Linked DNA regions of Homo sapiens. The protein of the gene in region 4 interacts with the protein of the main gene of each other region in a pairwise test. Each region holds a gene or a part of one and is shown on either strand. Other genes may lie near its edges. The genes, in order: OLFM4, NKG7, PIGF and TMEM130.

Region 1 (6,775 bases), on a different chromosome or scaffold from region 4:
TAACTACATCAGTCCACTGTGTCCTTCCAGCTCTAGGTCACCTGTCTTCTTACATATTCTCTTTGGTAAAGGTACTTCTCTTCCTGGTATAGCCAGTTAGTCCTTTTGCTTTCTGCCCAAGTCCTCCTGTCTGGGGAAGATCCAGAGGCTTCTGATCCATGTTCATAGCTCAATTGGAAAAGGAACATAAGCTACATAAATGTAGTCTAGCATTGGAAATAATCAGATCAGTCATGCAAATTAATAAGTACATAAGGTCATATCCCAAAAGATAATAGGGCAGTCATGTACAATAAAAGCTGCCAGAAAGAGTGGATTTTAAAGGGAAAGAAAAATGAAAGAGCCAGCCTAACTCTGGGCTCTTATAAAAGTTATTGATGTGATCTGTTGTTAGGTGTGCAATCTCCCCGCACTAGTGTTTGGGAGGTAGCCATTCTCCCAACCTCATAGCAAGATATGGACTACCCTGTTAAGAGCTTTAAAAAAAAATTAAAATTAAATAAAACAAAAGATGACTTTTTTCAAAGCACATTTTAATCATTTATTTTAAAAGGGGGAGTAAAGCATTTAAACTGCCAATCCTATAGACTAGGACTTGAACATCAAAGGAAAAATAGACAAAGACTAGATGATAAAGTCATTCAAAAGCACAGAAGCACATCACATACACCAGCAAGGTTTCCAACTACTGCACTGATTAACTAGATACTCTCAATAGCTTTTCTATAGCTCGTCCTAGAAAAAAAAATTAAATTTTCATTTTCTTACAAGTTCCAGGCTTAAACAAAGGCAAAAATTACATGCAACAACTGATACACTCATAAGTTGCACATATGCTCCAAGGTCTTTATTAGATAACAATAAATGCTAGCACTTTGTCACTGCCATCAGATTTTCTTATAGTCTTAGAGTCATGTAAATAAAAGTTCATAATGAAATTAAAGAAAATTAATTTTTCTAATCTTAGATCAGTTCCATAGAAAACTATTAATTTTTTTAAAGTAGGCAGTAGAAGGGGGTTGGTGGGGGGTGGAATTGGTTAGTAAGTCTGGTTCTAATCTTCTGAGCTGCCTTTGGAAGGAAGTTATGAGGTAGAAGATTCTACTGACTTTTAGTAAGGTGGACAATGAGAGAAAAGAAAAAGCAGGTGCCTCATCTACAGATCCTTCTGGGATTTATTTGCCATGTACAATTTAATGCATAAAAAGGCCTCTCTCCATAAAACTCAGCACTTTACAGATGTAGAATATATAAGCATGCCAAATTTACTTATCTGCCACATACAAAGCATCATTCCAGGTGCTAGTGAGGGGAAAAAAAAGTTGGAGATTTGGTCCCTCGAGGAGCTCCAGATATTAATCTACCTAACTAAGTCCCCAGGTTTCTTCCAGGCATGGAAGAATTAGTGGTGCTACATGGATGAGGACTAGTCATTGGGCAATATTTCCTGTACAAAGAATCCCTAGACGCCATACTGAGTTTTAAGTTCCTTAATTCCTAATTTAAGGCTTCTAGTGAAGCCTCCTCACAGTAGGCTTCACTAGGCCCACAGTGCCCCTAGACCTCTGACAATCCCACCCTAGACAGACTTTATTGCAAAATGCGCCTGAAGAGGCAGATGATTCCCAAGAGAACTCACCAAATCAAGACAAATGTCCTAGATCTCTAGTGTGGTAGAACTATGCACCTAAACATTGCTGCAAAATGAACACACTTTTAGACACCCCTGCAGATATCTAAGTAAGTGGAGAAGACTATTTTTTCAACAAACATTTTCTCTTTCACCCTAACTCCTAAACAGCTTACTGGGGCTTCTGCAAGACAGAAAGATCATAATTCAGAAGGTAACCATCGTTATAGACATAAAGTTTCTGGTCAAAAGGGTTATAGTTAATGCTCTGCACTTTTTCCTGCATCTTATGCATTACAATGTCTAGTTTGCCCTCTTTCCCTGTGTTTGTGTCATAATAGTAAAAAATCTCTTCTGTTCTGGTGTTCATAGTACGGGTGGCATACAGAACCCCACATACCATGAAGGCGTTAGAAGCAGATGGTTTATACTGCTTGGTATACCAAGTGTTTAGCACCTGAAGTGTGGTGTCATTGAGTTTACTAATCACCATGTTACCAGTGCTGGCTTCAGTTGAATAAATAACCCACAATCCATTCTCATCCACAGCAAAGTCAATATCTTGCCAAGCAACATTAGCATATGAAAAGCGGTTATTATAGGCAGCATTAGGGAGAGTTTGAGTCACAGCAATCGTGTTGGTGGTCAGGTTAACTCTGGCAATATTCCCGGTGTTGTACATGTTGACGTACATGTTGTTGTTGTAAACTGCTGTACCACTACCTTGGCCATAGGTGATCCGCAACTCTCGAGCATTTATATACAATAGCAAATCATCCAGTGTGTTGTACAGTCTATAATACTCCAACAGTCTCCCATCTGTATTCAATGGCGCCACCCAATACAGTCCTTTGTTTGGATGCTGGGGAGAGTAATCCCTACCCCAAGCACCATATAGATAAGAAAACCCTCTCCAGTTGAGCTGAACCACAGACGGTTTGCTGATGTTCACCACACCACCATGACCACAGCTCCCTATACAAACAAGAAAATAAAAAGGCATTTTTAGAGAAAAGGAATGACAGGATACAAATAGTTTAATATCCTAAGCACCAAAGGAATCTATAAATATTTTTCCTGTCAAGGTTCAATAACAACAGTGGTTCTGATGGAGAAGAGCCAAACCTCCTCTTAGTTCAGTGCATTCAGTCTCAATGCAAACCCAATGTCAGCTCTACAGAGAACTACATTCTGTTTCCATGGGTGGGCTTTCAATCTGGAAAATAGGAATAATGAAACCAGCAAGAACTATATTTAAAAAGTTTGGAGGCCCAGAGAGAGGAAAGGGAGACTTGGTGAATTTAATATATTTCCTTCTATCAGAAAGCATTTTGCAAATATTATCTTATTTTGTTTTTCTTATAGCAAAATCAAGGAAGCAAGATTATTCCACAATCCTACCCTATTTCTATAAATCCACAAGATTTATAGAAATCTATCCCAGAAAGAATAGTGATGAGGGAGAAGATTTTCCCAGGCAAGGCTTCATGCCCTTCCTCACTCTCCCCTTCCTTGGGACCCCCAATTGCACATCCACGCCAGGTACCAATCCTGCTTTAAGCTATTCTCAGAAGAGGATGTTTTAAATATAGCATTTTATAGATCCAGAAAGATGGTCCTATAATGGTGGGATTTCACCCTTGAGAAGCCATAAAGTTATTTTGGGGCAACATTGCCTGCTCCGTACCCAATGCACAGCCCATCAATAAATCACTTGCTGACCGTCCTGCTGCAGAGTTACATGGTGAGTCCTGCTGTTCATAACCCATATGCTATTGTGCCATAGAATGACATGCAAGTATTTCATCTTTCCATCCAGACACTGTCATTGTCACAATGTGTACAATCAAGTGGGACAAGATTCACTGGTCCACTGAATCTACATTCCCTGTAACACTTGGGTAAATAACTCAGTCTGGGCGATCAACCCTTCACATTGTACTCCCGCTGAAATGCCTGCCATCCCAGGAGTTTATGAGCTATAAAAATAAAATAAAGTTCCTCCAGTATTTTTATAATAACTATCCAAAGAGTTGAACACACATTTTCTGGGATCTTAACACTCAAAAAAACTCATGAGATGGTTTATTGGATAACAAAGAAAACCCAACTTCAAGTATATTTGAGGTCATTTTCCCTCGTCCTGCTGCTCAGAGCAGAGCAGGTGAGACAGGAAAGGAGCAGAACCTGAATTGTTGGATTTGGCCTGAAATACTTGCAGGGACTCAGAGAGCCATTGAGGAACATGAGGTGAGCTGGAGCCAAAAGCAGAGCTCCAAAGAATTGCCTGAGATTAGCATGGAGGCGGGGAAGGGGGAGCAAAGCCTTTGTCTCTGGGTCTCTGCTGTGTCCAATATGGAAAGACCCATTCCTTTCCTTGCTAAATGCTTTCCCTCCCCATCCTCCTCACCCAAGGACTGCTCAAAGGTGAAACCATTACTAGAAATTCTGTTTTTATTTTTCCAATCGGCTGGGGCTTTTTGGTCCCAGAATTAAATATATGCTCCTTAAATGCTCTCATAAATCCACAGTTGGTGAGAAAGCCAGCCAACCATACAACAGGTAGAGAAATGAAACCACTCTGTATCCAACCTCAAATAATTTTGCATATCATTAAGCAGAACACAGTCACAGGTTTATTTTAATAATGCATGTGCCATTTCATAAATAAAAAAGCAACGTGTTTTCAGCCAAGAGACTATTCTCCACTGAAGAAATAATAAATAAAATTATAAATTATTATTTCTTCTACTAAAAGTGATCTCTCAGATGAATGCTTGTTTGCTTTTGTTTATGAAACAATGCATGAATTATTAAAATAAAGTTAGCGGTGTGTTCAGTTTAATGATAACAAAAACTGTTCAAGTTTCCATATGCTACAAACTGGATTTTCTAGCTAAAGTATCTTCCTGAGAACTTATTTATTTAACTACATTTCACTCTGAGGAAAGTCACTTTTTTTTCTTTCAGGTTGGAAGACAATAATTGTTTGCTTCATTGAGTCTTGCCTTCCTGAAAAGAAAATATCCCAAACCGACAGCAACAAAATATTTAAGGAAAATTGATGATGCATATAACTTATTCAAGCACTACCAAGAGGTTAAACTATTCTGTCCCCAGATGTGGAAATTTTTAGACATGAAGGAACCAAAATAAACTTCTCAAAAAATTACTATTACTACTGCTATTATCATAAAACTAATTGCATTATTATTAGTATAATAGTATTAGTACTATTACTATTGTTACTACTACTAATAGTAATAGTGGCTCATCATTTCATAAGTTGACCAGAAAATTCAAATTGCCCAGTGTAAATATTAAAATGTATGAAACTTTGTTTTTCTCACCTCCCAAACATTCCTAAACACTTTCCTGTTCATTTGTTATCCTCCTTTTATCCTCTATGGGTAAGGATAAAGGGCTATTTTTAGGGCCCCGGCTGTGGTAGAAAGGAAGTGGAAATGGGGATGAGAACTCAACATTGCTGCCAATGCTACAAATGTGGCCACAACAATGTCAGACCAGGAAAAATGCTATGGCGGGCTTCCTCGACTCCTGGCAGCAAACCATCTTGGACACGATACTGAAACTGACAGCCAGTCCAGTGCCCACTGTTCCTCAGAGTCCCCATCCCCCCATCCCATCTTCACTGAGCTTCTCACCACCCTCCCTTATCTCATGCTCCTTGCCAGCCCCTTCCTTCATGTCAAGGTCTTAGACATACTTCATTCCATACTTCATACCCAGTTTCCATCCCAATTTCACCCTGACACTTGGGCAACAGCCCATTGCCCAATCATGATCCAAGAATTCTGAAAGACCATTGAATCATTTTGCATTTTCTGGTGGAAGAGAACACACAGCACAGAACTGTCAGGAGCAACAGTACCCTTTTACCTACTCCACTACCAAGGAAGCAAAAATAATTTGGTGTTAAGCAGATAGGTGAGTTGTTGGAATTTTCTTTTCACTCCAGAAATCACAGGTGCACCTCTCTGTTAGAGCAGCTATGGAAGGCAGCCTAGTATGGAAAATACTACTAGACAGATTCTAATTCAAAGCCTGATTCCAACAGTAGTTGTGTATCCTTGAGCAAGTTACTTAACCTTCTGAGCCTCAGTTTCCTCATGTCAGAAGAAAAATAATACCAACTCTGCAAAATAGTTACGAAAAATACAGAGAAGACATGTAAATGTTACTCAGTAAATGGTAAATATCTCAATATAATCACATCATGTTACAACTGGAGGTTTAGATGTCTCATTTCCTAGATAGTGGCTTCTGGAGGTTTCTTTACTCATGCTGGTAACCCCAGTACCCAGAACAGGGCCAGCCACACAGTGGCACCAAATTATGTTTGTGGAATAAAGGAATGAAAGATTAATCAAGTCACCTAAACTCAGCTTACCCTTATTTATAAAACACTAGCCTTCTACCCTGCTACATATCTGGTTTTTCAAAAAGCCTGGCATTTACTCCATGGAACATAATTTGAGGAACCCTCTATAGAAGTTTAGCCTTGGTTGGCACTCTCTTCATCATGCAATTCATTAGATGGCACCATGGTACTCTGAAAATACCTGAGGAAGCCATAATCATGAGAATTTAAAATATTCTGACTTGGCTTTTTAAAAGTATCATGGTTAGTAGCATTTTTTTGAAGCCAATAATTATATGCCTACAGAGGAAAATTAGTCTTGGATCTATTAATGCACTCTCTCAACTGGGCAACTGAACTTTGTTTGAGCCAGGAGGAGAATATGATTGACTTATAAGAATTAGGCAATTAAAACAATCATAGTCATAAAATGATTAAGACTAAATTGACTCTGAAGTGTTGGATATATGCTGTTCAACATGTGGCTCTTCCCTAAGCTTGAGATTTTAGCAGGTCACCCCATTTCTTTCAGACCCCATTTAATCATCAGCTACTTACTGAGCATCACTATGGACCAGCACAGAACCTTGCATCCCCAAGCAAACTGGAGATCAACCCCTGAGCACCCGATCACATTTGGCCTATATACAGTCATTTAGATTCACAGGCAAAACAGAGACAGACTGAAGTTTTAAGGGAAAAAAGTTAATGAGTAGAAGGCCAATTATTTTAGATTAGAAAGTTCTATGAAATGAGGCAGAAAA
Region 2 (6,490 bases), on a different chromosome or scaffold from region 4:
TCTCTCCAGAAAAGTCGTCTCCATCCCTCCACAATATGGTCAGTCTTTTTCCGGCATTCTCCCTGCACTGGGACTGCTGTCTGGCCTGTATTAACTGCTTCTGGTCTGTAAGTGCCTCCTCCCCACCACCCCACAGACTGAGCCCCTGCTGGGCAGGGCCTGGGTCTGACCCGTGCCAGTGTCCCCAGCATGGGGAAATGTGCAAAGAGAACTGACTGAGTGCAAGGAAGGGCTGAGTTCTGGCAAGGGGGACAAAATCAGAGAGGGAGAGAGAAGGAAAGAGAGCCAGCTAAAGGGAGAAAGACACAGGGAGGAAGAAAAGTGCTGGAGAAGGGGAGACATAGACACGGGTTGGAGCCTGTGTCCACACGGGCCGGGCACTCGTACTGGGCAGGAGCGCCCTGCAGGCTGGTCGGCCTGGTGGGCCCTCACCTTCCCTTGGTGCCCAGCTCCTACCATGGAGCTGGCAGACAGTTGGCTTATGTCTTGGCAGAATTAATCTCAAAATAACCAGATTCCAGCCAAATTTTGTTGAATGAATGAAGAAACAAGAGGAGGGGCTGGGGAAGGGCTGGAAGGGCGGGCAGATGTGGGACCAGACTTTCCCGAGGCTCCAGATGAGGCCTTTGGAATACAACGCTCAAAACTCATCTTGCCGCTCTTGCCTTCTGCTCACAAGGTTTCATAGCCAGGACGGGGACCGCCACAGTGAGCACCCAGGCTCAGGGCACCTGGGGAGCCAGAAAGAGTTTAAGCACTTGCCCCTGCCCTCTGTCCTCAGGGACCCCAACTGGACCCTCCCAAAGCTCCCCAGGGCAGTGGGCAGGATAGTCACCTGTACAGAGCAAGAGGATAGCTGAGACCCAGCCCAGGTAGAAGGACCAGGAGAAGAAGGTCTGGATCTGGGGGTGTGGAGGCTGGTCCCACCGCTCGCTGGTGTACACCGCCATGGCCACCACCATGGAGATGGCTGGGGACAAGGACAAGAGAGATGGCTCAGCTCCTCGGCAGGAATTCGCTGGCTCGCGATGCCCCAGTCCAGTCCAGAGTCCTTACCTGCAGCAAAGGCTGCGGTGGTTGAGACAAGCGGGCCGTGGCCTGGGGGGAACAGTGAGGGGAAGCAGGACAGGACCAGGAAGCTCACGGACACCAGGGCCCACAGAACAGCCATAATGCTGAAGGTCTGCGTCACGTGGATGTAGCCTGATCGGGAGAAGACCACTGAGCACCCATCCCCGCTGGCAACCCCTCTGTAGGACACCCATTCCCCTTACCTGATATGATGTCCCCATGCCCTGTTGGCCAGAGGCCCGAGTGAGCTGAGTGGGTGGGACCCACAGCCTCAAACCAGAAATCGGTGCTCAAAGCAATCAGGCAGAACATCAGGCCCAGGGAGCCCCCCAGCAGGGCCAGGGACCGGCAGAGCTCCATGGGGATAAGCTCAGGGCTTCTGGGTCCTGGAGGAGGAAGAGGCTGCTGATCAGACTCTTGAATCTCAGAGAGAAGGAGGCTGTGCACCCAGACTCCTGGGTCCTTAGAGCCCAAGAAAGAGAGAACAGCAAGCAGTTGGGGCAGTGAGGGGTCCTGCGCTTTGTCACATGAGGCTGGTTTGGTTTCACACAGTTCCCGGTAGCTTTTCACATACCCTCCCTTCCTGGATTGCACAGGCAACGTCCTCCCTCCCCTCCCTGGGGTCCAGTTCCCCGCTTAGTGTGTGATGGGGGAGGGCACTGAGGGTGTCAGATCATCAGTGGTTTGGGCGGTGGTTTAGTACTTGCCTCTGTCACAGATTCTACAACTCCCACCCATGGAACCTTCAACACCAAGTCGGGGCTTCCTGGAAGAGGTGAGAGAGAGAGGCTTGGGGGCCCTGAGGTGGGAGGAAGCCAATCAGGCTAGGGTGTACATTAAGGGGGAGGGCAGATGTGGCTGGAGGGGACAGCTGGGGATGTGTCATGCTTTCCTGTGGGTTATGCAGTCTTCCATTCTGGGAGAGGAAGTCCCCAAGTCTAGGGTCTCTACTGAAGGAGGGGACTTGGGAGTTAGAACTCCTGGGGCTTAAGGAGGAAGGAGCTGGGGGCCTGAACTCCAGGTCCTGAGGGAGGAAGAGGCGGGCAGGAGCTCAGAATCCTGGGCCCCAGTTTGGAGCATATGCCAAGGGCAGGCAAACAGCAGAGAATCACAATTCTGAAAGGTTTGCAGAGAGTCAGACATACCCACATCCTCATCTGATTAATGAGTTCAGTGGCATCCCTGCTTGGGTGGGGGCTCCAGCCTGGTGGCCTTTATCACCAGGATCGGGGGGCCTAGGGGGTGTTGGGGGACATAAGGATTTTGGTTTAGGGTTCTCCAGCCCCCCAAACGCTAGCCTCTTCCATCCACACCATCAGGTCCTGGCAACACCTCATCTACGAGCAGGTATAAGGTGACGGTACCACAGCCCAGGTAGAAGGCCCAGGAAAACTTGACCTCTGTGAAACGGTGATATGGTTAGGGTTTGTGTCCCTACCCAAATCGCACCTTGAATTGTGTCCCCATAATCCTCACGTGTCTAGGTAGAGACCAGGTGGAGGTAATTGAATCATGGGGCCGGCTTCCCCCATGCTGTTCTTGTGATAGTGAGTGAGTTTTCACAAGATATGGTGTTTTTTTAAGGGGCTCTTCCTGCCTTCGCTTGGCCTTCTTCCTGCCACTCTGTGAAGACAGTGGCTTGCTTCCCCTTCACCTTCCACCATGATTGTAAGTTTCCTGAGGCCTCCCCAGCCATGCTGAACTGTGAATCAAATAAACCTCTTTCCTTTATAAATTACCCAGTCTCAGGCATTTGTTGTTGTTGTTGTTGTTGTTTGAGACAGAGTCTCACTCTTGTCACTCAGGCTGGAGGGCAGTGGCAAAATCTCGGCTCACTGCAATCTCCACCTCCCAGGTTCAAGCAGTTCTCCTGCTTCAGCCTCCCAAGTAGCTGGGATTACAGGTGCCCGCCACCACACCCAGCTAATTTTTGTATTTTTAGTAGATTTCAGGTTTAGTAGATTTTCGGGTTTTCACCATGTTGGACAGGCTGGTCTTTAACTCCTGACCTCAGGTGATCTGCCCACCTTGGCCTCCCAAAGTGTTGGGATTACAGGTGTGAGCCACCACGCCCGGCCAGGCAGTTATTTATAGCAGTGTGAGAATAGACTAATACATAGGGAGTAGTCTGGAAGAGGACCTCTGTCTTGGAGATGAACTGGTCCAGCAGTCCCAGGACAGCTGGCAAATGTGGAGAATGGGAAATGACCTGGAAGACTGGTTCCTCTCCTTTATTGGAGAGACTCAGATCGGCAGCCCCCATCCTTCACTCAGATCTGCACCACTCTGAGAACACATTTATGAGCACAGGCTCCCAGAGGTGGCAGAGGCCATGAGCAGGCCAGGTCTCCGGAAAACCTGCCATGGTGTGCAGTGAGTAGCAGGTCAGAGCACACAGCCTATCTATCTGTGACCCTGACCCCCTCCCAAACCCAAAGCCATCCTTAACCCCAAACCCAACTCCATCCCCAAACTCAGTATCAAGCCCAGTTCCAACCACAAATTCAACCCATCCCTATCCCCAAAGTTAACCCTATTCCCATTCCTGAACACAACTCCATACCCAATCCCATCCCTATTCGTAATCTCCACCCTAGCTCCAACCCCCATCCTCAAATAGAACTCCATTCTCAGTCCCAACTACACACTCAACCCCATCCCCCGATTCGCCCCCATCCCCAAACCTAACGTCATTCTAATTCCCAAACTCAACATCATCCTTATTCCCAGTTCCAACCCTTATACCCTTCCCACCCTCAAATCTAACTCCATTCTCATTCTGAAACCCCACCCTATCTCCAAACCAAACCCCTCTCCATTATTAACCCCAGCCCCTACTCCAAACCCAACCCCATCCTCTTCCTGAAACTTGACCCTATTCTCATTCCCATCCCAACCCTTTTTTTTTTTTTGAGATGGAGTCTCACTCTGTCACCCAGGCTGGAGTACAGTGGCATGATCTTGGCTCACTGCAACCTCCGCCTCCTGGGTTTAAGTGATTCCTGTGCCTCAGCCTCCTGAGTAGCTGGGGTTATGGTTGTACGCCACCACACCAGGCTAATTTTTTTTTTTTTTTTGTATTTTTAGTAGAAATGGGGTTTTGCCATGTTGGCCAGGCTGGTCTTGAACTCCTGACCTCAGGTGATCCACCTGCCTCAGCCTCCCACAGTGCTGAGATTACAGGAGTGAGCCACTGCGCCCAGCCACTGTCTTTTCATTCTTCTCTGCAACCTCTATAATTCATACCTAACTCCGACCATTTTCATTCTCCTTTCACCTCCAGGTCCAAGCCTGTAACCTCATTTCTCATCTCCCCAAGTGGGTCCCACTACCACCACCATCACACCCATGCATGCATGCATACACAGAGGTGACCTGTACCTGGCTCCAGTGAGTCTCTGCACATGTAGGTATCACAGGCTGATCACAGGCCCAGGCCCTCTGACAGACACCACAAGCCAGTAAGAGCGGGTGAGTGAAGGTCATCTTTTTTTTTTTTTTTTTTTTTTTTTTTTGAGACGCAGTTTCACTTTTGTTGCTCAGGCTGGAGTGCAATGGCATGATCGGGGCTCACAGCAACCTCTGCCTCCCAGGTTCAAGAGATCCTCCTGCCTCAGCCTCCTAAGTAACTAGGATTACAGGCATGCGCCACCATGCCCGGCTGACTTTCTATTTTTAGTAGAGACGGGGTTTCTCCACGTTGGTCAGGCTGGTCTCGAACTCCTGACCTCAGGTGATCCACCTGCTTCAGCCTCCCAAAGTGCTGGAATTACAGGCGTGAGTGACCGCACCCAGCCAGCCAAGACCATCTCTTAAGAGCACAAAGGCAAGGCAGCTGGGGCCTTGAAGACAGAATTGCTCGCAGGATCTCCAGCAGCTTTCTCAACCAGATGTGGTCTGTGGTTGCCAGAGGAAAACCCCAGGCCTCCTTCTGAAGCTTTTCCTGAGAGCTCTGTGAAAGGAAAATCTTGGGGCCCCAAAATTACTGAGCTAAAGGGGAAAGTCAGGCTGGGAACAGCTCAGGGCAAACCTGCCTCTCATTCTATTCAAAGTCATCCCTCTGCTCACTGAGATCGATGCATATCTGATTGCCTCCTTTGGAAAGGCTTATCAGAAACTCAAAAGAGGCCATGCCTGTAATCCCAGCACTTTAGGAGGCCTAAGCAGGTGGATCACCTGAGGTTATGAGTTCAAAACCAGCCTGGCCAACATGGTGAAACCCCATCTCTACTAAAAATACAAAAATTAGCCGGGCATGGTGGTGCACGCCTGTAGTCTCAGACTCAGGAGACTGAGGTAGGAGAATCACTTGAACCCAGGAGGTGGAGGTTGCAGTAAGCCGAGATTGTGCCACTGCACTCTAGCCTGGGCAACAGAGTTAGACTCCATCTAGGAAAAAAGAAACTCAAAGAATGCAACAATTTGTCTCTCACCTACCTGTAACGTGGAATCCCCCTCCCTGCTTTGAGTTGTCCCCACCTTCCTGGATGCACCAATGTACTTCTTACATCTATTGATTGATATGTCATGTCTCCCTAAAATGTATAGAACCAAGCTGTGCCCCGACCACCTTGGGCACATGTCGTCAGGACATCCTGAGGCTGTGTCACGGGCGCATGTCCTCAACTTTGGCAAAATAAACTTTCTATTGTTCTTTTTTTTGAGATGGAATCTCGCTCTGTTGCCCAGGCTGGAGTGCAGTGGCACGATCTCGGCTCACTGCAAGCTCCGCCTCCCGGGTTCACGCCATTCTCCTGCCTCAGCCTCCTGAGTAGCTGTGACTACATGGCAAAATAAACTTTCTAAATTAACTGAGACCTGTCTCAGATTTTCGGGGTTCACAGCTCACGTCGCCTGCTTGGCCACTTGGTTCTCTTAGGTCTCTGTCAGTCTTGTCTAAGCACTGTCAGTTTTTTTGAATCACCCAGGTCTCTTCCAACTTTCTCCAGCCCCTTCCAACCTCTCCCGGGCTTGAAAGCTCCTCAGTAGCCCCCATCTGCCACGGAAGACCCCAAAAAATTAGCTGGGAGTGGTGGCGTGCACCTGTAATTCCAGCTACTCGGGAGGCTGAGGCAGGAGAATCGCTTGAACCCGGGAGTCAGAAGTTGCAGTGAGCCAAGATCGCACCACCGTACTCCAGCCTGGGTGACAGAGTGAGACTCCATCTCAAAAAAAATAAAATAAAATAAAATTTAAAAAGACTAATCCTCAATTAACCTACGTTCTATTAAAGAAATGAATGCTAATGGTAAACAGTTATTATGGAAGGCATCATCATTTCTATTGAGGTGCACTCTAGTCATAATATTTAATGGCTATTATAATGATAAAAAGATATTAAATCTCAGTATCATTAGAGTACATTTCAATAAATAATACTTTATGTAAGTCAATAAACAGCACTTACTTTATGTAAGTC
Region 3 (7,030 bases), on a different chromosome or scaffold from region 4:
TCTATATTACCATGGAAACAGAACCTCTTTTCGACTCATGTAGGTCGGATGGGTAGAATATGGGCGGAAGGTGGTATTTGCCTTTTAGGCTTTTTTAGTCTGTATCGAAGGCTGTGTATGTGACGGTACAGGACATGTGATCTGATTTGAGTATACCCAAGAACATTTGAACTGTTTTACACATTATGGGAACAAGTTGTGTTTGTAGATGAAATGGAAGAATTTATTGTCCTTTAAGCATTATCTTGAATCTTCAGGTTATTCATTTCTCTTTTAGGTAACTGGATTTTTGAAATGCTGTATCTACTTTCTTATGTCTTGTTTCTCCTTTCATGTAATTTTTGTTCTGTATGGAGCACCACTGATAGAGTAAGTTTGAAATTTTTACCCTAAATTTATATTTTAAAACATTCATTTACCAAACTGTGTGCTAATTCTTAGCAACTAGAGAAAAACCATGATGTGCATCATTAATAGATCAAGTAAGGACACCAACATCATTAGCAGTGTTATTCTTTTTTAAAAAAAACAGCAGAATAACTTAATTTATTAAATACTCTTGTTACCTAGCCTTCTAGTATCCAATTGCATGTTGAGAGAAGGGAGAGTAGAGAAACTATACTATACCAATAAGTATTTGGCCCTTAGAACCTCTGAAAGAACTTACTATGATTATATGTGTAAGTTATAATTAGCATATCAGTTCTTATAAATGTGATTCTAAAGTACTTGAATGGAGTTTTTCTTAACAAAAGTCAATAGATTCCTGTATTCAAATACTGAATAAGCTGGTGTTTATAGTTTAAAGGTAAAATTTAACACTTTTTCTGAACTGACAAATTTCAAATTCTTAGAAACAAAATTCATGAATGTTTCTTACATAATGTTTATCATAGTTTGAGAAGCTTCAGTTTAGCAGTGATTAATGATCATGGTGAAATGAGTGATGAGATACATATACATATACACACACATATATTTGTGTTGCTAAGTATACCATTTTATATATATATATATATTTATACATAGTTTTACGTACACACACTAAACTGACAGGTTATTCTTTTCTAGATGGGAGAGAACAAGACCTTTGTAATGGAAAATGGTGGTTCCTGTCTAATCCATTTTAAAGCAGAATGAATGTGTCTGGCACAGTGGTTCTCAAAATGTGGTTTTCAAACCAGCAGCATCAGCATTTTATCAAAATGCAAATACTCAAGCTTCAGTCAGAAACTCTAGGGGTAGAGCCCCCACCAATCTTTAGTTTATCCAGCTCTCCAGGTGTTTCCAATATATGTTAACCACTAGTTGTAGAGAACCACTACAACTAGTATTCAATAGTGGTTCAATAGTGGTTCAATAGTGTATTGAACCACTAGTTGTAGAGAAAGTTCCAGAGAGACTATTGAGCAGAAAGCTAACTATCTAGAAATGGATTTTGTTTGTTTGTTTGTGTTTGCAGTGAAAGTCTCAGCATGGATCCTAGGGTCTTTAACACTTCTGAAATCTATCATTAAAGCGAAATACTTGCTAGATTGTTTTTTAAAGCTACATGTTGGTGGTAAAATTATTTATAGTCATCATTTTGGTGGCATTCATGTTACCTTTCAAAGTAAAGCATAGGAAGATATTTCACATTTTATTTATATAATAAAGATTATGTATGTGTATGTTTACCTTTAACACTTTTTTAAAAAGTAATCTTTTTTTTTTTCTAGGTTGGCATTGGAAACATTTTTATTTGCAGTTATTTTGTCTACTTTTACTACTGTGCCTTGCTTATGTTTGTTAGGACCAAACCTCAAAGCATGGCTAAGAGTGTTCAGTAGAAATGGGTAAGTTTTAATTTTATATTATAATGATATTGAAATTAAAAAATAATTAATGAAGTATTTTTCTATTCATGGCAGTTTGCTGATTATTCTGAGTGCTTCTCATTGCTGATGGTGCTCAGAGATGCCTTAAGGGGTCACTGCAATTAGGGACTGGGGACAGGGCAGGCAGAACTACAAGCCCCTCCCTCCACGTTAGCAAGATCAGCTCTCCTTTTTTCTGTATGGTAGAATTCCACCTAGCCTTTTGTTTGTTTAAAAAAAAAAAGAAGAAGAAGAAATAAAAAAAAATTCTACTATTAAAAGAAAGCCTTGAAAACCATGGTTCTGGGATAATTTGGCACTGTGATAAGACTGCTGTAAATAAAATTGCTTACATACATTTTATAAGGTAGAAGTGGGGTCCACAATCTAAAAATGTGTTGTGTAACAATGATAATTTCTTGTTTAGCCTTTTTTGTGATAAGATACCAGAGCTCAAGTTTTATGAGATTTCATTTCCTTGGTGGCCGTATATATTTTCAGCATGGCTAAGTTAAAATTTTAGCTTCTTGAAAGTCATTTAAATGATATGCACCAGAAATAGTGGAGATCTAGCTAAGAAAGCCAGAAGGTTATTTGATTCTTTCCTATTTATCACCCAGCAGCAAGAACTTCTTGAGCACTTAGTCTGTGCTCTGTGTTATTGTGTTATGCTAAGCTGTGTGTGGTTTCTGAAGTATTAGGAGGAATCTTTTTTTTTTTTTTTGAGATGGAACCTCGCTCTGTCGCCAGGCTGGAGTGCAGTGGCATGATTTCGGCTCACTGCAACCTCCATCTCCCAGGTTCAAGTGATTCTCCTGCCTCAGCCTCCCAAGTAGCTGGGACTACAGGTGCATGCCACCATGCCCAGCTAATTTTTCTATTTTTAGTAGAGACAGGGTTTCACCACACTGGCCAGGATGGTCTTGATCTCGACCTCATGATCCGCCCGCCTCGCCTCCCAAAGTGCTGGGATTACAGGTATGAGCCACCACACCCGGCCTTATTAGGAGGATTCTTTTGCTGAGGAGCTTATCTGTTCAAGGGACAAAAATGAGCAAATAACATCAGATTACAAATGTGTAAATCCAGCAATAAGTGGTGTAGGAACTCAAAGGGACAGAGCATCAGTAAAGAATGGAGGGGGAGATGGGAATGATCTATGATGGACTTAAGTCAAGAGTATATGATTTGGTGAGACCAAGAAGGAAGAGAAAGGCACCTCGTGCAAGGAGAATGGATAAAAGCATTGAAACTGAAATGAACAGGGTATTTTTGTGTGATTTGAAAGGTAACAGCCCAATGAGAGCAAAAGATGCATGCTGAGTAGCTTGGCTTCATAAATTACCGACTTATTCCCTTTGAAATCAGTACTGTTTGGGACGAGTGTGGTGGCTCACGCCTGTAATCTCAGCACTTTGGGAGGCCAAGGCGGGTGGATCACCTGAGGTCAGGAGTTCAAGACCAGCCTGGCCAACATGGTGAAACCCCATCTCTACTAAAAATACAAAAATTAGCTGGGTGTGGTGGCGGGTGCCTGTAGTCCCAGCTACTTGGGAAGCTGAGGCAGGAGAATTGCTTGAACCCAGGAGGCGGAGGTTGCAGTGAGCCGAGATCGCACCACTGGACTCCAGCCTGGGCAACATAGTGAGAATCTGTCTCAAAAAAAAAAAAAAAAAAAAAGGAATCAGTACTGTTTTCCCTTGGAACCGTCTTCTAATATTCATAAAGTCTCTAGAAAACAGAAGTGTAACAACTGAAAGCATTTTCTACATTATTACCATAATATCCCAAATGGTATTAATTGCTTTTAGCCTTTTAGTTTGAAATTTTTAAATAGTGAAATTGGATTGAAATCTTATTACTTTGGATTAGTGATTTCTCCAGTTTTCAAGTCTATGTCTAATAATGGGTGTATTTGGGGGAAATACTGTCATGTGATTTTACAATTAGTTCTGCTATAATGTGGCCTGTGTGTTCCTAAAAATCACTACGCTGTACAAAATGGGCAGTAAAAACCACAGAGCTTATGGGAAAGATGGGGTTAGGTCATAACACTAAAACAATTCATCAGTGACATGTAGAGAGAAGATGGGAACTTAATAAAAATGGTAGCACAGTTTTACACGTTTAAAATGGTTACAAAATACAGGCATACCTCATTTTATTGTTCCTCACTTTATTGTACTTCTCAGATATTGCTCAGATCAGATACTGTTTTTTATAAATTGAAGGTTTGTGGCAACCCTGCATCAAGCAAATGTATCAGCGCCGTTTTTCCAACAGCATGTGTTCTCTTCATTGGAAACTCTCACAATATTTCAAGCTTTTTCATTATTATTATATCTATTATGGTGATCTGTGGTCTTTGCTGTTACTTTTTGTAATTGTTTTGGGGCACCATGGCTCATACCCATATAAGATGACGATCTTAATAAATGTTGTACATCTTCTGACTGCTTCACCTACCAACGTGTTCTCTCTGTCTCTCTCCCTTCCCCACCCTCCCTCTCTCTCCCGTCCCTGTTCCCTGAGATACAAAAATATCAAATTTAGGCCAGTTAATAACCATACTATGGTCTCTTAAGTGTTCAAGTGAAAGGAAAATTTTACTTGTCTCTCACTTTAAATCAAAAGCTAGAAGTGATTAAGCTTAATGAAAAAGTTAAGTTGTCAAGAACTGAGACAGACTAAAAGTGAAGCCCCTTGTGCCAAATAGCCAAGTTGTGAATGCAAAGGAAAAGTTCTTAAAGGAAATTTAGTCTACTCTAGTAAACACATGAGTGACAAGAAAGTGGAACAGCCTTACTGCTGATGGGGAGAAAGTTTTATGGTCTGGATGAAAGATCAAACCAGGTACAACATTCTAAGCCAAATCCTAATCCAGAGTAAGCCTCTCACTCTCTTCATTTCTGTGAAGGCTGAGAGAGGTGAGAAAGTTACAGAAGAAAAGTTTGAAACTAGCAGTGGTTGATTCATGAGGCTTAAGGAAAGAGGCCATCGCCATCACATAAAAGTGCAAGGTGAAGCAACAAGTGCTGATGTAGAAGCTGGAGCAAGTTATCCAGAAGATCTAGCTAAGATTGTTGGTGAAGGTGGCTAAATAACAGATTTTTAATGTAGACAAAACAGCCTTCTATTGAAAGAAGATGCCATCTAGGACTTTTAAAGTTAGAGAGGAGAAGTCAGTGGCCACCTTCAATGCTTGACAGGCTGACTCTCTTGTTAGGGGCCAGTGCAGCCAGAGACTTTAGTTGAAGTCAATGCTAATTTACCATTTTGCAAATCCTAGGGCCCTTAAGAATTATGCTAAATCTACTTTGCCTATATACTGTCAATGGAACAACGAAGTCTGGATGACAGCACATCTGTTTATAACATGGTTTACTGAATATTTTAAGCTCACTTTTGAGACCTACTGCTCAGAAAAAAAAAATCCTTTCAAAATATTGCTGCTCATTGACAATGTGCCTAGTCACCCAAGAGCTCTGTTGGAGATGTACAAGAATATTAATGTTTTTTTCATGCCTACAACACAAGATCCATTCTGTAGCCCACGGATCAAGGAGTAATTTTGATTTTCAAGTCTTATTACTTAAGAAACACATTTTGTAAGGCTATAGCTGCCATAGATAGTGATTCCTCTGATGGATTTGGAAAAAGTAAATTGAAAACCTTCTGGAAAGGACCATTCTAGATGGATGCCATTGAGGACATTTGTGATTCAAGGGAGGAGATAAAAATATCAACATTGACGAGAAGCTGATTCCATTCCTCATGAATGATGTTGAGAGGTTCAGGACTTCAGTGGAGGAAACCACTGCAGATGTGGTGGAAATAGCCAGAGAACTAGAATTAGAACAGGAGCCTGAAGATGTGACTGAATTGCTGCAACATTATGATAAAACTGGAACAGATGAGGAATTACTTCTGGATGAGAAAGAAAATGGTCTCCTGAGATGGAATCTACTGGTGAAGATGCCATGAATATTGTTGAAATGACAACAAAGGATTTAGGATATTGCATAAACTTAGTTAATAAAGCAAAGCAATGGCAGGGTTTGAGAGGGTTGACTCCAATTTTGAAAGAAGGTCTACTCTGGGTAAAAGGCTGTCAAACAGCATGGCACGCTACAGATCAATCTTTTCTGGAAGGAAGAGTCAATTGATGCAACCAACTTCATGGTTAAAATTTCACTTTAAGAAATTGCCGGCTGGGCGCAGTGGGTCGTGCCTGTAATCCCAGCACTTTGGGAGGCTGAGACAGGCAGATCACTTGAGGTCAGGAGTTTGAGACCAGCCTGGCCAACATGGTGAAACTCTGTCTCTACTAAAAATACAAGAAAAATTAGCTGGGCGTGCTGGTAGGCCCCTGTAATCCCAGCTACTTGGGAGGCTGAGGCACAAGAATCACTTGAACCCAGGAGGCAGAGGTTGCAGCGAGCCGAGATTGTGCCACTGCACTCCAGCCTGGGCGATAGAGCGAGACTCAGTCTTAAAAAAAAAAAAGAAAAGAAATTTCCACAGCCTCCCCAACCACCACCCTGATCAGTCAGCAGCCGTCAACATCAAGGCCACATCTTCCACCAGCAAAAAGATTACAACTTGCTGAAGGCTCAGATAATTATTAACATTTCTTAGTAATAAAGTATTTTTAAATCATGTGCATTTAAAAAACTAATGCTATTGCCCACTTAATAGACTATGATACAGTAGAAATATAACTTTTATATGCACTGGGAAACCAGAAAATACATATGACTCACTTTATTGTACAATTTGCTTTATTCTGGTGGTCTGGAACCAAATCTGCAGTATCTAAAAGGTATGCCTGCACCCAAATATTACAATAAACATAGCACTTTTCCTTGGAAAAGGTTTCCTTGGTAAAGGTTTGCTTCTGGAAATAGACATGAGAAGGGTTGCCTATTGTGAGTTATTGCGAAGTGATGAGATGGTTGTTGGAAATCTGAGGGAAAATTAACACCAGATGTGCGTATGTGTGGCTCATGACACGTAGTAAACTGAGGTAGCTGGGAGGTGGTTATTTTTTAAAACAGTATTGAGATATAATTCACACACCGTACACATCATCTATTTAAAATATACAATTCAATGACTTTTTGCAACCACCAATCTACTTACTGTCTCTATAGATTTGCCTATCCTGGAAATTT
Region 4 (7,030 bases):
AGAAATAAAAGAAACGCAGAATCCCAGGCCCCACTCCAGACCTCCAAAATGAAAATTCTTGTTTACCAAGATCTCTAGCAATTCTCATGAACCTCAAAGTTTAAGAAGCCTGCTAGAGACTAGTGGTTCTCATACCTGATATGCACCAGAATCGCAGAGGGCTTGTGAAAACAGGTGGCTGCCCCCCTACCCAGGCACTGCTTCAGGTATCAGGTCGAGCCCAAGGGTCTGCATTTCCAACACGTCCCCAGGTGTGGTCCACGTTCCTCCTCTGGCTCTAGAATCCCCCTGAGGTCTCAGACAGGGATGCATGTCCAAGTCACCTGGGGACAGCTCTCCCCACCTCCAGGGACCTGAACTGGCTCCCTTCAGTTGTCTTCACCACAGAGGACAAGTGGGATGTCCTGCTGCGTCACAGCACTGCCGTTGCTGTCTGCAAGGCAAAAACGTCCATGCACAAAAGAGAGACTCTGGCCACACCGTCTATGCTTGGCTATATTCAGAGCACACAAGCTTTATTTAGCAACAATGGCAGTATTTCATGAGAATGAGCTGCACAATAGTGTAAATGCCATTTTCTGCACACAGCCTGGGAGCAGATGGTTACAGCGACAGAGCCCAGACCCCACAGTCCTCCCCTGCCCTTCCTGACAGGCTCCGGCTACTTCTGGCCTCATTATTGTCTCAGCCACAGCCCAGGTCGCTGGGCCAGAAGGGAGGGTGCAGGCTGGTTCCGCTGCTCAGGCTCTGTCATCCTGCTTCTTCCTTCTCAAGGCCACCTCGGGAGCAGCTGGCAGGCAAGAATGCCCCCCTCACACACAGGGAACCCAAGTCCCTGCTGACTCAACCTCTTCTTTTTTTTTTTTTGGAGACAGAGTCTCGCTCTGTCACTCAGGCTGGAGTGCAGTGGCGCCATCTGGGCTCACTGCAAGCTCCGCCTCCCGGGTTCGCACCATTCTCCTGCCTCAGCCTCCCGAGTAGCTGGGACTACAGGCACCCACCACCACGCCCGGCTAACTTTTTGTATTTTTTTAGTAGAGACGGGGTTTCACCGTGTTAGCCAGGGTGGTCTCGATCTCCTGATCTCGTGATCCACCCGCCTCGGCCTCCCAAAGTGCTGGGATTACAGGCGTGAGCCACCGCGCCCGGCCTTGACTCAACCTCTTCTACCGCTGCAAGGCCTTTTCCTCAGTGAAAGTTTCACAGATGGGTTTCGATAAAATAAGGTGATATTTATAAAGCACTCTGCAATCACTCAGTATTAGTCCTGCCCCCCATCCAGCCCCCTGCCAGCCAGCAGGGACTAGGATGGCCTTATAAAGGGCGCAAGAACTGCAGAGACAAAGCACAAAGGGAGGGCCCGGGCCCAGAACCTGTCAGGGCTGCTTGGAGGTCAAATTTCCTTTCAGCTCTAGTGCAGGGTGCATCCCAGCAACCGACTTAACCAGATACAGAGCTGATCATCTGAAATGCCCATGTGACGCATGTGTTTATATTTCTGTGTGTGTGTGTGTGTGTGTGTGTGTGTGTGTGTGTGGTGTGTGTACATGCACACTTCTCTCTGTGAGTGTGCCCATCTATGTGTACAACCTTTAGTTATGGATTTTTAACCCTTTATGACCTTCTTTCTAGCTCTCTGGCACAGGTAGGGCTGTCTGGGGGAGGAAACTGAGAACCCCCAATGGACAGCAGATGTGCCAATATGAGAGGAATGGGCAGTGGGCAGCCAGGCCCACCTGGGAGTCAACACGGAACACCCCAAGCATCAAAGTCCTGCACGAAGCCTCTTCAAAGGTAGGGGGTCAAGGGGGTGGTAACCGAGTGGGGCTTATGTCAGTGGCTGGACTGTACAGATGGGTGAATGGCTGGGGTCAGGGGTGACAGAGAGGGAGGGGCTTGTGGCAGTGGCTGAACTGTACAGATGGATGGATGATCCAGGCCAACAGCCCCACGCAAATGAACCCCTCCTGGTCAGTGGTGCACACCACCCTGCTGGAAACTCCAAGTCAGCAGTCAGTTAACACTGAGATGGGGTGGGGAGGGGGAGTGCTCACACGGTGTAAGTTTTGACAGACTTATAGAGGGGCGGGAGCAGCCCGTGGTTCTCACGAACAATTTCCAGGTACTCAGATGGAGTCTCCAGCAAGAAAGGCCCACAGCACATCTGGCAGCAGCACCTGACCCCAGAGGGTGGCTCCGGGTTCTTGTCAGACATGGGGGAAAAGTCAAAATCAGCCACCTATGATGAACAAAATCCCACGGGTCAATCACCCACCCACCAGGAGCCCCATCAGGTGGCCTTATGAGCTCAGCTGCCTGGTGGCAGAGTGCACAGAAACACCTTTCTGGCACCACACAGATGCAAGAGATGGATATAGGAGATAAATCAGATGGGACACCAACTTAGCAATTTTTCCTGGTCTACAGATGCCTCTTGGGCACATCACCCCAAGTCCCGGAGCCTCGCTGTAATATCAAGACCCCCTCCAGGCATCCTGGCCTGGCCCCCATACCCTCTCTAAACATCCTCTCTAGGCAAGGCCCAGTAGTCCAGCCCCCACCCCACTGAGTACCCACCTCCACCATGTCCTTTTGCTGAGTGGCATTCCGCAGGGTCATGTACATGATGAAGGCCAACATCACAGTGATAAGTGTAGCACATGGGAAAGCAAAGACAGCCGGCTGGATTCCTGGGAATGAAAGAAGTAACATTACAGGACTGGGTAGCTGGTACTACAGTGCTGGTTCTCAGGAAGCAAGCACAACAAAGGAGGGAATGGTCAAGCCCCACCAGTGATTTTTTTTACCCTCATGTACATGCATCCCAACTGGGCAACCCCAATAGGTAAATCCAGGACTTCACAAAAAATAAACTGGGGTCTGGGTAGGGGGCTTTCAGCATACATCCACAAGTTACTTGGTAGCAACTTCCAAGAGGGGCAGCTAAATTCCTCACACCTTGAGTGAGGGCTGGACTCAGCGACCAGCTCCTAGTGTACAGCAGATGAAAGGAGTGACAGTGCATGACTCCTGAGTCTAAGCCATAAGAGACACCACAGCTCCCTCTTTGCTCTCTCGGGTGACACACTTTTGGGAAGGGCAGCCATGTTGTGAGGTCACCCAATCAGCACTGTGTCCCCTGCTTCAGCTTCTCACGCTCTGGCAACTGCAGGCTCACCCAATAAACCTGTTGCTATGAAATGGTATGGTAGAAAGAGTCCAGTGTCTGAAGTTGAACAGTCCTGGGTTCAAATCCTAGCTCTGAATAGGCTACCTCATGCTAATGCTGACCTGCAAGACTGCTAAGGAGATGCAACAAGAAGAGGGGTGTTGATGTGTGTGGCATGTGGTAGGTGATCAGGAAGTGTGGGTTCCCTCTCCCTTTTCCCTCACCCTCTGCCATGAGGGTCTGTTTCCAAAGAAAAGTTGTCATTGATTACCTGTACTGCTGTCTTCTCTGCAGAATTCAGGGGGTTCCTGATTGGAACTTGGTCCCCAGAGGGTGCTGAGAGATGCAGGGCTCAAGTGACCTGATGATGCCCACAAAGTAAGCCAGGGCCAAGATTGAGTGTAGCATCCTCTCAGGGGCCCAGAGTGGGATTGGGGAAACTGGAGGGGACAGTGACAGCTTCAGGTGCATCCATAGGACCAACCTTGAAGACAAGTGCAGCTGGCAGGGTTTGGCATGAGCTTGGGAGCACTGGGAAGAACTAACTCCTACCCCAGGACCAGGAATCTGAAACCCTGGCTCAGGCTCAGGCTGACATCCAGTCTTGTTGCCTCCCTGTGCCTTAGTTTCCCCTTTTGTAGCATCAAAGGTAGAAGTAGGTTGGGCATCTGAAAGACAGTGCCTTCAGGACCTGAGATCCTACTCTATGTAAGGAAGTACTTCTCTGGGGCTCCCAGAGTCCTCCATAAAAATGAAGTGTAGAACCCAATGCTGTCATCAGCAAAGCCCACAATCGTAAGCCAGGGGCTGGGCCGATGATAGTTTTGGAAAGGTATTTCAAGAAAGAAGGTTGGGCATCCTTTTCTCTTTTTTATTTTTTATTTATTTTTCTGGAGACAGGGTCTCACTCTGTCGCTCAGGCTGGAGTGCTGTGGTGTGATCTTGGCTCATTGCAGCCTCAACCTCCTGGGCTCAAGTGATCTACCACATCAGCTTCCCGAGTAGCATAGCAGAGACCTACAGGCACACGCCACTCTCTCTCTCTCTCAATCCCTCTCTCTCTCTCTGTCTCTCTCATATATATATATATATATATATATTTTTTTTTTTTTTTAATTTTTTGAGACAAGAGCCTCTCTGTGGCCCAGGCTGGAGTGCAGCAGCTCAATCTCAGCTCACTGCAACCTCCACCTCCCAGGTTCAAGGGATTCTCATGCCTCCACCTCCTGCGTAGCTGGGATTACAGACTCCCACCACCACACCCAGCTAACTTTTTGGTATTTTTAGTAGAGACAGGTTTTGCCATGTTGGCCAGGCTGGTCTCAAACTCTTGGCCTCAAGTGATCCACCCACCTCGGCCTCTCAAAGTGCTGCAATTACAGGCACGAGCCACCGCATCTGTCCTATTTTTATATCTTTTGTAGAGACAGAGTTTTGCCACGTTGCCCAGGCTGGTCTCAGACTCCTGGGTTCAATCAGTCCACCCGCCTCAGCCTCCCAGAGTCCTGGGAGCCACCATGCCTAGCCCAGGCATCCTTATTAACAATATGCAATGCCTTCTCCCTGCAAGACTCACTACAACACTGTGAGTTGAGTAGAGTTACTGTTGGGGATGCTGGTTTTAGCAGTGGCAACTGCTGGGGCAGGGGTGATGGTGATGAGGGAGGGAACACTGCAATCATGGTGGCTCATTTGGCGCAAAAGTGTTTGTGCTGGGGACGTGTGGTCTTGGAAATATGTGGGAGAAGACATTGGCATGGTTGCTTTCGGTCCACAAAGCTGGCATTGGGGCAGGTGGTGGCATGGGCTTATAGATGTGGGTAGGGTCGGGGTCATTGAGGTGACTTGGTGAGAATGCTTATAGAGTCGTTAGTGGTGGCAATGGTGGTCCTGGAAGAGTTGTCAGGAAAGCATATGGTAATGGTGGTAGCTGAGTTGGTTACAGTTGTTAGTGGTGCTGGTGTTGATGGTGGTGCTGGTAGAATCGATGGGTGCCATATTGGGGTTGACAGAGTTGGTTGCTGGTGGGATTGGAGAGTTTGGTGGTGGTGGTATTGGCAGTTGGCCAGCGCTGATGTTGGCGGTCACTGGAGTCAGTGGGGTTATGGATGGTGCTGATGCTAGCGGGCTTTGTTGCTGAGGACCTTGGTAAGGCTGGCTGGTAGGAGCGTATTGGTGGTGGTGGCAGGATGGACAGGCTTGTGCTGCCCATGTGGCACTGGAGCAGAAGGCGAGGTGTCACTTACTGGAGGGCCACACCTGGATCTTGTGGTACTGATGTGTCTTGCTGATGATATTCTCGGCCCGGATGCTGAAGCAGTAGTCCCCAGGGTCCCTGAAGGTGTGGGTCAGGTTGTACGCTGTGCTGGCCACGGACACAGGGTGGCACTCCCCTTCCTCCAGCGGGAGGCACTCAGGCTTGAGACGCCAGCACACAGTCAGAGGAGGGCTGCAGGGAAATGGGGGCGGTTTTTAAGAAAAGGCTCAGCAAAGCATGTCAGCACAGACCAAGTCCAAGACAGGCCAGGTGGGCAGGAACTTCAGTGTCCTTTCCAGGACAGGACATCAAGCCGTCCTGGACTCAGCTTCATGCATTCCAGACCAGGGGACACTATGGTGCAAAAGAGATGGTCCCGGACCCCCAAGAGAATTCCAAGTGAATAAGGCCAACAGAGATACGCATAGACTGCTCACTGGAGGCAGGATGAGCGGTCTGATGGCACACATGGTGTACCATAGAAGCCCAGGGGAATAATAAGCACATCCCCCTTTTTGTGTTTTGCATTTTACGAGACAGGGACTCACTCTATTACCCAGGCTGAAGTGCAGTGGCTCAATCATAGCTCACTGCAGCCTCCAGCTCCTGAGCTCAAGCGATCTTCCTGCCTCAGCCTCCCGAGTAGCTGGGGCTACAGGCACCAGCCACCATGCCCAACTAATTTTTTAATTTAATTTAATTTAATTTTTTATTAATTATTTATTTAGAGATGGTGTCTCACTCTGTTGCCCAGGCTGGAGTGCAATGGCGCGATCTTGACTCACTGCAACCTTCACCTCCCGGGTTCGAGCCTCAGCCTCCCAAGTAACTGGGACTACAGGCACACACAACCATGCCTGGCTAATTTTTGTATTTTTAGTAAAGACAGGGTTTCGCCATGTTGGCTAGGCTGGTCTCAAACTCCTGACCTCAGGTGACCCGCCCGCCTCGGCCTCCCAAAGTGCTGGTATTACAGGCGTGAGCCACTGCGCCTGGCCAATTTTTTAATTTTTTAATAGCGATGGGACTATATTGCCCAGGGTGGTCTCCAACTCCTAGCCTCAAGTATTCTCCTGCCCCAGCCTCCTGAAGTGCTGGGATTACAGGCATGAGCCACTGCAACCAGCATGAGAGAGTTGTTTTTTGTTTGTTTGTTTTGTTTTTGTTTTTGTGGGGTTTTTTTGACAGAGTCTCACTCTGTCACCCAGGCTGGAGTGCAGTGGTGCGATCTCCGCTCACTGCAACCTTTGCCTCCTGGGTTCAAGTGAGTCTTCCACCTCAGCCTCCCAAGTAGCTGGGATTACAGGCATGCACCACCGTGCCTGGCTAATTTTTGTATTTTTTGGTAGAGACCAGGGTTTCACCATGTTGGCCAGGCTAATCTTTAACTCCTGACCTCAAGTGATCCACCCACCTCAGCCTCTGAAAGTGCTAGGATTGCAGACATGAGCTACCGTCCCTGACCATGAGAGCATTCTTAATGAGGTAGCCAGAGAAGGCTTCCTGGAGGAGGTGGCATTTGAGCAGATCTGAATGGATAAATGAACGTTTGATGGGTGAGAAAGGATAAGGGCATTCCAAGTTATCCACATTCCACAAGCATA

The links.
Region 1: the proteins of TMEM130 (region 4) and OLFM4 interact in binary tests that used the Homo sapiens proteins (3 or more experiments, as listed by UniProt).
Region 2: the proteins of TMEM130 (region 4) and NKG7 interact in binary tests that used the Homo sapiens proteins (3 or more experiments, as listed by UniProt).
Region 3: the proteins of TMEM130 (region 4) and PIGF interact in binary tests that used the Homo sapiens proteins (3 or more experiments, as listed by UniProt).

What each region holds. Positions count from the first base shown.
Region 1 is NC_000013.11:53,045,799-53,052,573, reverse strand, and holds the end of OLFM4 (olfactomedin-4 precursor), read right to left. Parts: intron 2,606-6,775; coding exon 1,803-2,605; 3' UTR 517-1,802; downstream 1-516. UniProt on the Homo sapiens protein: May promote proliferation of pancreatic cancer cells by favoring the transition from the S to G2/M phase. In myeloid leukemic cell lines, inhibits cell growth and induces cell differentiation and apoptosis.
Region 2 is NC_000019.10:51,371,105-51,377,594, forward strand, and holds NKG7 (protein NKG7), read right to left. Parts: upstream 1,551-6,490; 5' UTR 1,432-1,550; coding exon 1,275-1,431; exon of another isoform or gene 1,204-1,274; coding exon 1,057-1,203; coding exon of another isoform or gene 971-1,056; coding exon 836-970; intron 732-835; coding exon 673-731; 3' UTR 516-672; downstream 1-515.
Region 3 is NC_000002.12:46,607,033-46,614,062, reverse strand, and holds part of PIGF (GPI ethanolamine phosphate transferase, stabilizing subunit), read left to right. Parts: intron 1-277; coding exon 278-369; intron 370-1,718; coding exon 1,719-1,835; intron 1,836-7,030.
Region 4 is NC_000007.14:98,846,006-98,853,035, forward strand, and holds the end of TMEM130 (transmembrane protein 130 isoform b precursor), read right to left. Parts: intron 5,619-7,030; coding exon 5,416-5,618; intron 2,691-5,415; coding exon 2,578-2,690; intron 2,240-2,577; coding exon of another isoform or gene 2,204-2,239; coding exon 2,051-2,203; 3' UTR 485-2,050; downstream 1-484.